Linked DNA regions of Homo sapiens. The protein of the gene in region 1 purifies or fractionates together with the protein of each later gene. This does not show direct contact. Each region holds a gene or a part of one and is shown in the gene's direction. Other genes may lie near its edges.

Region 1 (3,657 bases):
GAGAGTGAATGGTTCTGTCTCACTGGGCTTCCAGGTGCCACTGGGGGGAAAAAAAACTGCTACAGCTAGCTCTGTGTCTGCCCAAATAGCCACCCAGTTTTGTGCTTGAAACCCAGGGCCCTGGTGTTGTAGGCACACGAGAGAATCTCCTGGTCTGTGGATTGCCAAAACCATGGGAAAAGCGTAGTATCTGGGCTGGATAGTACAGTCCCTCACTGCTTCCCTTGGCTGGGAGAAGGAGGCCCCTGGCTCCTTGCACTTCCCAGGTGAGGCAATGCCCCACTCTGCTTCTGCTCGCCCTCCTTGGGCTGCACCCATTGCAGTCCCAATGAGATGAACTGGGTACTCCTAAGTAGTTCCAGTGAGATGAACTGGGTACCTCAGTTGGAAATGCAGATATCACCCACCTTCTGCATTGGTCTCGCTGGGAGCTGCAGACCAGAGCTGTTCCTATTTGGCCATCTTGCCAGATCTCCAGCATATAGTAGGTTTTTAACAGAGGTTTGTTTTTATCACATCCTTTTTCAATTACACACACACATTCACACACACGTTAACACTCAAGTACACTTATACATGCAAGACACACACACACAGATTCAAAAACCTGGGTAATGTGATAAGCAAGCCAAGATTCAGGGATAACCCAGGTAATGGTATGGATTAGTCAGCGATGCCTCCCAGATTTAGCTTCTGGACTGGCTGGATCCATGAGGTAAAAACATAACAGTGGTACAATTAATCAGGTTTAAAAAATAATTCATGAAGAAATGTTATTTTGATCTACACTATCAAACCACTATCAATGTGGAAAAAAACTTGGTTACTTAACACCTTCTCTGATTATACAATCTCTTTGCAGGAGATAAACCTGTTGAATCAATGCAGACAAAATTGAACTACCTTAGAAGAAATCTACTCATTTTAGTTGGTATTATCATCATGGTTTTTGTCTTTATCTGTTTTTGTTATCTCCATTATAATTGTCTGAGCGATGATGCGTCCAAAGCAGGAATGTAAGTTTTACTCCTTTAAATTAAGAGTGCGAGGTGTGTGTGTGTGTACATATAGCGGAGGTTTCATTGTTGTTCAGGTTACTCAATATTAACTTTAGACTTCTGAAGAGCTACCAACCTTTTGTAGGTGAATATTTTCCCTTAAATTATATCAGCTCTTAAATATTCTCTAGTACATTATTAACTTCAGCCAAAGTGTCTCTTGTTCAAGGTTCAGCTGAACTCCAGGACATTAATTGCATTATAAATTCAGTGCAGGAAAAGAGGGCATGAATATCCAAATAAGAGTGCGAAAATGAAGAGAAAGAGAGAGGGAATTGGGTCTCTGTTTTTCAAAGACAATAAAACATTTTGGATAATCTACCATTTTAAGACTTAATCACATGAAAAATTATTCACTGTTGTTGCTCTCATGATCTCAGTGCCTGCCTTTTATATACTAGTTCCCTAAAAATATCCCATTCCAAAGACTGGTGACTAAAACGTGGTACCAGTACTGTATTCCTTTAGTTTCAGAGGAATGTTATGAATTTAAATATGCACCGATAACTTGATGTTGTAAATATGATACAAAAACAATGACTTTTCCTACAGTTTTTTTCTTGTGATACATTATCAATCTGTGACTTTTTTATAAAAAGTTTAATTCTGAAATAAGTGAGGTTCATTCTCTCTCTCTCTTTCTCTTTGTGTGTGTGTGTGTGTGTGTTTCTCTCTTTTTACAGCAGATTTGAAATAACTTTGTGTAATTCTATATGTGGATTATATGGTTATCTAATGTGGTTAAATAGTAAAATGCTCTTAAGAAAAAGCATTAAACAAGAGTCCATATTTATAACCTTAGTTGTGGCTTTCACCACTCCAATTCTGTTTTTGTGTTTTTGTTTGTTTGTTTTTGAGACAGAGTCTCACTTTGTCACCCAGGCTGGAGTGCAATGGCATGATCTCGGCTCACTGCAACCTCTGCCTCCCAGGTTCAGACGATTCTCCTGCCTCAGCCTCCCAAGTAGCTGGGGACTACAGGTGTGCGCCACCACACCAGGCTAATTTTTGTATTTTTAGTAGAGATGGAGTTTCACCATGTTGGCCAGCCTGGTCTCGAACTCCTGGCCTCAAGTGATCTGCCCACCTCGTCCTCCCAAAGTGTGGGATTACAGGTGTGAACCACCACACACAGCCGTCACACTCCGATTCTTACTGTGTTCAGTTTTCATATTAAAGCCCCAAAAGACCACAGGTCTAAGCAGTACCATACGTTCTCCGATAATAGTAATAGGTCTCTTTTGTTTTAAATCATTATACTCCAAATTTTCTATACTTTCAGGGTCAAGAAAAAAGGCATAGCAGCCAAGTCATCTAAAACATCATTCAGTGAAGCCAAGACAGCCTCTCAATGCAGTCCAGAAACACAACCCATGCTATCTACTGCAGACAAGTCATCTGATTCATCGAGTCCAGAAAGGGCATCCGCACAATCCAGCACAGAAAAATTAATCAGACCCTCAAGTCTACAAAAGCCATCCATACCAAACAGTGCAGGAAAGTTAACTAGGCCATCATATCCAAAAAGGTCATCCAAGTCATCATGCTCAAAAAAATTAAGCAAGTCATCTCACCTGGAAAAGGCACATAAGAAAGGCAGCCTAGAAAAATTATGTAAGCTAGACTATGCGTGTAAGCTAGCCAGTTCAGATAAGCCAGTCAGGCCACCTCAGCTATTCAAGCCACTTTATTCATCTCATCCACAAAATGAAATCTCACCATCCAAGCCATTCGGTCCACAGGAATTGGCTAAGCCTCCCAAACATTTTAATCCAAAAAGGTCAGTGAGTCTAGGCAGGGCAGCCTTATTATCCAACTCTGAATTAGCTGAAACTTGTCAACCCTACAAGAAAAAACATCTTGTTGCCAAAACTTATAGGCCTTTGGTCAATGATATTTCTGAGGCAAAGGAGAAAAACACTCAAAACCTACATGTTTCAAGCAAAGTCAAGTCCTCTTCCAGGTCCTTTCGTAAGTTAGATTCCAGGAACAATGCATACGGTGATCATGTGAATGACAGTGATACGATGAAATATTATAGTGAGGTTGACAGTGATAAAGTTATAATCATTACGTGTGACAGAGGGTACAATCAAGTCACCTCTGAAGTAACCCTAAATGATTAGGAGCTCAACAAAAATAAAATCCAAGTGTGAAAGAGCAAACTTATACCAACTATTTTATGCTCATCATCCCTTAAGAAACCAGTAGAGGGAAAAATCACTATCAAGATCACCCATATCTGTCTTGGAGGCGATTTATTTTAAAAATATCAATAAAATGCATGACATAAATTACTATTGTAATTATTATTTCATTTTAGGGGGCACAAGGATCTTTTGATGTCTCTTACTTAGACCTGGTCACTTGGATAAGAACCATAAACATACACTCACACAAACCTAGAAAGAAATTGCAAGATGGGGCCGGGTACGGTGGCTCACACCTGTAATCCTAGCACTTTGGGAGGCTGAGGTGAGCAGATCACCTGAGGTCAGAAGTTCGAGACCAGCCTGGCCAACGTGGTAAAATCTCGTCTCTACTAAAATTACAAAAATTAGCCAGGCGTGGTAGTGGGCGTCTGTAATCCCAGCTACTC
Region 2 (3,058 bases), on another chromosome or scaffold:
CAATTCACTCGCCTCGGCCTCCCAAAATGCTGGGATTACAGGCCTGAGCCACTGCGCCCAGCCAGGATTTGAATTATTTTAACTCATCCATGGGCTGCCCTAGAATGTCACAAATGAGGGTTGTTTAATGCCTTTCTTATAGCTGCTACTGGAACACTATTATGACCTAATTTATGAGCCATCCTTACTCATCTACAAGTGCTGAAGCAATGTTACATACTTTTTTGCTAAACTCAGATTTTTTAGCCTAATTTCTTGTCCTCCTATCCACCTGCATCCACACATGGCCTGCATGGGGCTGCCTTCCCTGCAGTGTTCTGCAGCCATGCTTCAGGGTATAGCTGTTGGTGGACAGCCTCAGGTCTTGGGGGCACTATAGCCACTAAACGAGGTGTGAAAGGCTCAAGAGGATGACCAGCAATTAATTATCCCCAGAAAGTGAAGGAAAAGAGACCTTTAGGGATGTTGCTGGTCAAGTCTTGATTTGACCGGAGTCAAATCAATCTTCAAGCAATCTTGGAATCCTCAACTGCAGTAAGCATTTCAAAATGCAAACAAACTGCTTAACAACTGACAAGACACCAGCCCATACGCTGCTCTTCCAACAGTGGGTTCTAGCTTTGAACAAAAGTGCTAAACATTTCCTTGAATATATTCTTCCTCTTTTTGTCCTCATCACTCAATACTGGTGCTCTTGTCACAGGTAGAACAGCTTGTTTCTTTTCCATCTATTCAAGTGTGTTTCTAATTCTAAAATGCTGATCTTCTCTGGAGTCTATGGTAGGCAATTATGGTCACTGGAATAGTTTGTCTTGTTTTAAAATATTATTGGTGCATGTACAACAGCATCCAACATATCTGTCTTGTTCCTAGATATATAGCTCTGATTTTAGGCCTTTTGTGCATACCATTACAATATGGTGGGGTAAGACATTCTACAGTAGCCTGTGCTGAACTGATCTCTTAAATAAACTTGCTTCTGGTTAACTATGTTGATGAAATCTGAGAGTCCATTCAGTAGCCCTCATCTCACCCTTCAAAGAGAGTCAGCTAGCAGATTAGAAACAAATGTCTGATTAGGATGAAGCAGGTTTGAGGGGTGCTGGTATAATAGCAAGAAAGATTTGCTGACCACTCTCTTTCCAAACTCCATAGTTTCTGAGTGGAAACGAGGATGAGTGAGGTCCTGGCTCAAGTATTTTACTCCCACTACCACCTGGGAGCCCTCCAGGAAAAGAGCTGAGGCTGCTCCAGATGGAAGTCAAGAGCAGCTGGTATTTACACCTGGAAAATCAGATTTTTTTTTCTTTTGCAATAACTCGGTAGTAAGACCAGACCAACAATTTTAGAGAAAAGCCTACATCTAACATACATGCTACCAAACGAGTGTCTAACAGGAATAAACCAAGCAGAAATCTCAAAACAGGTCTACATCAAAAGTTACAAGCAAGCATATCAGGTGCAATACTGAGGATGAGTATATTAGGAAGTAAAAACACTTACCGTAAATGAATATTCGAAGTGCACACTGCAATGGGTTGATTGGAGAGATATCTAAATGTAAACATTTGACATCAAAGTGGCAAGCTTTGGGCTCCATTGGAAGGCTGCAATTTCCATGGAAAAGCCCTCAGAGAAGCATGTTTCAATTGCCGAAACAGGCCTAATCCTTATGCAAGATGTAAGGGTTTTAAAAAGTTAGAAACTCTGCTCTCACCTTTCAATATTAAGAGCATAAACAAATGAATCACCAGGCAGATTTTTATATATGACACTAAGAGATTTAGAACTTTAAGAGCTGTGGTGACCACATTATGGTGGAGGAACAAAAAAGGAAACCTTGGCAGTTAGAAAGCTGCTCAGTGATGAATTCAAGAAGGAACCAGCTTTAAATTATCTCTTCATGCCAACATCCATCTATACACTGAAAGTTTTAGTATTGTACATTAAGACGATCAGGCCCAGCAGGGTGGTTCACGCCTGTAATCCCAGAACTTTGGGAGACTGACATGGTGGATCACTTAAGCCCAGGAGTTTGAGACCAGCCTGGGCAACATGGCAAAACTGTCTCTACTAAAAATACAAAAAAACTAGCTGGGTGTGGTGATGCATACCTGTAGTCCTACCTACTTGAGAGGCTGAAGCAGGAGAATCGCTTAAGGTCAAGGCTGCAGTGAGCTGTGATTGTGCCACTGCACTCCAGCCTGGGTGACACAGCGAGACCCTGTCTCTAAAACAAAAAAGACAATAAAGTAGTTTAAGCTAGTAAAACAGAAGGTGCCACAACAACCTGCAAAGCCAGTGTGAAGGAACAGCTTGAAAAAACTTCGAATTTCTACTGACTACAGACAAATCCAAGTGCTGATATTTTTATATCAATTACTGGCCAAAATGGTGTGTTTATTTTTTAAAGCTTGTATCATGGAATGTATAATCTAATCTGGAAAAATGTTTGAAAGGGATGGCTAGAAAAAAATTTGGGCTCACAGGCACTCACCAAATAAGAACGTCAACAATCACTAAACTGCATTTTTATTTAAACAACATTAATTACAGTCTTTCCTCGTGCGTGTCCTCTTTCCACCTTCAGGAAGGCTTCTGGAACTTTAGAAAAAGGAAAGGTTTGTTCAATAACTGGCCGGATCTGTAAAACATAAGAGGTTGACCGGTGGATAAAAAAGCCTACATCTTTCAAGGCAGATGACATTGCTAATTAGTTTCTTGACGGTGTCCCTCAAGCCACAGTCTCTCTCAAGTGTCTCTCCAGTGGACCCAGGTCAGGCTCTCACAAGGGCCATGATGCTGCCTCCACTCCTGCCTCACTGCTGCTTCTCTCTTTATGGCCCCTCCCACCCCACTGCCCAGTCTTACTTCTCCTCCATGCTGGTCTTTCACTCTCCTACTTAGAACCGTTCAACAGCTCCCACTCCGGCATTCGAAGACCAATAGCATCCTGAGCTCAGCCCTCATCCAGATTCCATGCTTTGCAAAAACGCTCTACCTGCCATTTTCTCCACGTGGTATGTTTATGCCTCTGCTGGTACGAGTCAGTAAGCCC
Region 3 (3,657 bases), on another chromosome or scaffold:
CTTTGAGAAAGGTGGTAACTTACCTAAGTATGTCTCCTTTGGTCCCAGTAGTCTTGTTACTTTTTCCTGTCATTATAAAACCTTGTGATACCTTCTTTTCACTTTCCTATCTAGACAACTGAGGCTGAGGAAGTCTTTGTGCCAGTTTTAAATATAAAACGTTCTGAACTACCTCTGCGAGGTGACATTGTCTTCTTTCTTCAGAAGGTTCATATTCCAGAGAGTATCTTGATTTTTCGGGATGAGATTGACCTCCATGCATTATACCAGGCTGGCCAACTCACCCTCATCCTTGTCGACCATCATATCTTATCCAAGTAAGCACAAGGAAATTAAATTGCTACCTATCATGTACCATGCTGGGCTCTGATGAGTGAGATATAAAGAGAGGAAGAAAGAGTTTTTGCTGGCTGGGCATGGTGGCTCATGCCTGTAATCCCAGCACTTTGGGAGGCCAAGGCGGGCGGATCACCTGAGATCAGGATTTTGAGACCAGCCTGGACAACATGGCAAAACCCCGTCTCTACTAAAAATATAAAAATTAGCTGGGCGTGGTGGCAAGTGCCTGTAATCCCAGCTACTTGGGAGGCTGAGGCGGGAGAATCACTTGAACCTGGAAGGTGGTGGTTGCAGTGAGCCGAGATCGTGCCACTGCACTCCAGCCTGAGCGACAGAGCCAGACTCCGTCTCAAAAAAGAAAGAGTTTTTGCTTTCAGGGATCTCATAGGCTAATCATAATTGATAGGTCATATTAGATATAGAAAAACAACACAAAATATTGTCAGTTCTGCAGTTATATGTATGTCTGTGGCATATAGACATACCCTATAATAAAAAGAAATAGAACGTGTTGAGTTCAAACTAAAGGGTAACTCAAAAATCATTTAAATCTGCCTTTGGTATCATTATTTAAGATTTTGTGTGCCGGGTGTGATGGCTCACGCCTGTAATCTCAGCACTTTGGGAGGCCAAGGCAGCCAGATCCATTAAGCTCCAGGAGTTCAAGACCCGCCTGAGCAACATGGCAAAACCATGTCTTTACAAAAAATTTTTAAAAATTAGGCACGGTGGTGCATGCCTATGGTCCCAGCTACTCGGGAGGTTGAGGTGGGAGGATCACTTGAGCCCAGGAGGTCGAATCTGCAGTGAGCCAAGATCACACCACTCCACTCCAAGCCTGGGAGACAGAGGGAGACCCTGTCTCAAAAAAAAAAAAAAAAAAGATTCTGAGACAGATTTATTGTAATAGAAACCTTTGAAAAATGTTTGCAATTCTCTTTTTATTTTTTTACTTATTATTTATTTTTGTACTTACTTATTAAATTTTTTTTAGAGAAGAGGGTCTTGCTATATTGCCCAGGCGGATCTCAAATTCCTAGGCTCATGCTATCTTCCTGCCTCTGCCTCCCTAAGTGCTGGTTTATAGGTGTGAGCCACCACACCTGGCCTGCAACTCTATTTTTAATTTTAATTTTAATTAATTATTTTTTTTTGAGATGGAGTCTTGCTCTGTCACCCAGGCTTCAGTGCAGTGGTGTGATCTCGGCTCACTGCAACAACCTCTGCCTCCTGGGTTCAAGCGATTCTCCCTGCCTCAGTCTCCTGAGTAGCTGGGATTACAGGTGCGCGCCACCATGCCCAGCTAATTTTTATATTTTTTACTGGAGACAGGGTTTTGCGCTGTTGGCCAGGCTGGCCTGGAACTCCTGACCTCAGATGATCTGCCCACTTTGGCCTCCCAAAGTGGTGGGATTACAGGCGTGAGCCACCACACCTGGCCTATTTTTAATTTTTAAAAAGTGGCCTGGTGTGGTGGCTCACGCCTGTAATCCCAGCACTTAGGGAGACCTGTCTGACCACTATAGCGAGACCCTGTTCTCTAAAAAAAAATAATAAATACAAAAATCTATAAACATAGTGTGACCTTGTCTCTACTAAAAATAAAAAAATTTGCCAGGTGTGGTAGTGCATGCCTGTAGTCCCAGCTACTTAGGAGGCTGCTGAGGTGGTAGGATCACTTGAGCCTAGGAATTGAGGCTTCAGTAAGCCATGATCACATCACTGTACTCCAGCCTGAGTGACAGGGCAAGAACTTGTCTCCAAAAAAATTTTTTTAAGTTATCAAAAGGGCCAGGTGTGGTGGCTCACACCTGTAAACCCAGCACTTTGGGAGGGTGAAACAGGAGGGTTGCTTGAGCCCAGGAGTTCAAGACCAGCTTGGGCAAGATGGTGAGATCCCATCTCTACAAAAAAATTTAAAAGCACACAAAAAGTTAGCAAAAGTTTTTCTACATAAACTCTTACGATTTTAGAATAATGTATTATGTTAGAATATATAAATATCTCAGGCCAGGCGCGGTGGCTCATGCCTGTAATCCCAGCACTTTGGGAGGCTGAGGGGGGCGGATCATGAGGTCAGGAGATGGAGACCATCCTGGCTAACATGGTGAAAACCCGTCTCTACTAAAAAATACAAAAAATTAGCCGGGCATGGTGGCGGACGCCGATAGTCCCAGCTACTCGGGAGTCTGAGGTAGGAGAATGGCATGAACCCGGGAGGCGGAGCTTTCAGTGAGCTGAGATCATGCCACTTGCACTCCAGCCTGGGCGACAGAGCAAGACTCCATCTTAAAAAAAAAAAAAAATAGCTGGGCGTGGTGGCTCGCGCCTGTAAGTCCCAGCTACTTGGGAGGCTGAGGCAGGAGAATCGCTTGAACCTAGGAGGTGGAGGTTGCAGTGAGCCAAGATCGCGCCACTGCGCTCCAGTCTGAGCGACAGAGTGATGCTCTGTCTCAAAAAAAAAAAAAAAAAAATTAGCCAGGCCGGGCGTGGTGGCTCACGCCTGTAATCCCAGCACTTTGGGAGGCTGAGGCGGGCAGAATCACCTGAGGTCAGGAGTTTGAGACCAGCCTGACCAACATGGAGAAACCCCATCTCTACTAAAAATACAAAATTAGCCAGGCGTGGTGGCACATGCCTGTAATCCCAGCTACTCAGGAGGCTGAGGCAGGAGAATTGCTTGAACATGGGAGCCAGAGGTTGCGGTGAGCCGAGATCATGCCATCGCACTCCAGCCTGTGCAACAAGAGCGAAACTCCGTCTCAAAAAAAAATTTTTTTTAATCTATAAATATCTCAATAATGTCTGTTTAACAAATGTACACATTTATAATAATTCCATCCCTAATTTACTACTGGAAAAAACTACCAAAAAAGCAACACGATTATGTGACTTTCCTAAGTCTGTTTGGCTCCTGCTAATATTTTTTTCTTGAGCACATTGTGGTTATAGCAGGATACTGACAGAAGGCAGCCTGAGAGAGCATTATCCATCTATGGATTCATTCAGTAATAAACTTTCCTTTTTTTTTCTTTTTTTTTTTTGAGACAGAGTTTTCTCTTGTTGCCTAGGTTGGAGTGCAATAGTGCAATCTAGGCTCACTGCAACCTCCGCCTCCCGGGATAATTTTGTGTGTGTGTGTGTGTGTGTGTTTTTAGTAGAGATGGGGCTTCACCATGTTGGTCAGGCTGGTCTTCAACTCCTGACCTCAGGTGATCCGCCCACCTCGGACTCCCAAAGTGCTGGGATTACAGGTATGAGCCACCGTGCCACCACCTTTTTTTTTTTTAAGAGATGGTGTCTCTCTCGCTCTGTCTC

The links.
Region 2: the proteins of CXorf66 (region 1) and CRYBG1 purify together in Homo sapiens (affinity purification with mass spectrometry; one large-scale study listed by BioGRID and IntAct). This does not show direct contact.
Region 3: the proteins of CXorf66 (region 1) and PRUNE1 purify together in Homo sapiens (affinity purification with mass spectrometry; one large-scale study listed by BioGRID and IntAct). This does not show direct contact.

What each region holds. Positions count from the first base shown.
Region 1 is NC_000023.11:139,955,423-139,959,079, reverse strand, and holds the end of CXorf66 (uncharacterized protein CXorf66 precursor), read left to right. Parts: intron 1-862; coding exon 863-1,016; intron 1,017-2,340; coding exon 2,341-3,184; 3' UTR 3,185-3,352; downstream 3,353-3,657.
Region 2 is NC_000006.12:106,569,460-106,572,517, forward strand, and holds the end of CRYBG1 (beta/gamma crystallin domain-containing protein 1), read left to right. Parts: 3' UTR 1-2,536; downstream 2,537-3,058. Other genes in the region: RTN4IP1 (NAD(P)H oxidoreductase RTN4IP1, mitochondrial isoform 1 precursor), read right to left, coding at 2,537-2,644. UniProt on the Homo sapiens protein: May function as suppressor of malignant melanoma. It may exert its effects through interactions with the cytoskeleton.
Region 3 is NC_000001.11:151,018,353-151,022,009, forward strand, and holds part of PRUNE1 (exopolyphosphatase PRUNE1), read left to right. Parts: intron 1-114; coding exon 115-317; intron 318-3,657. UniProt on the Homo sapiens protein: Phosphodiesterase (PDE) that has higher activity toward cAMP than cGMP, as substrate. Plays a role in cell proliferation, migration and differentiation, and acts as a negative regulator of NME1. Plays a role in the regulation of neurogenesis.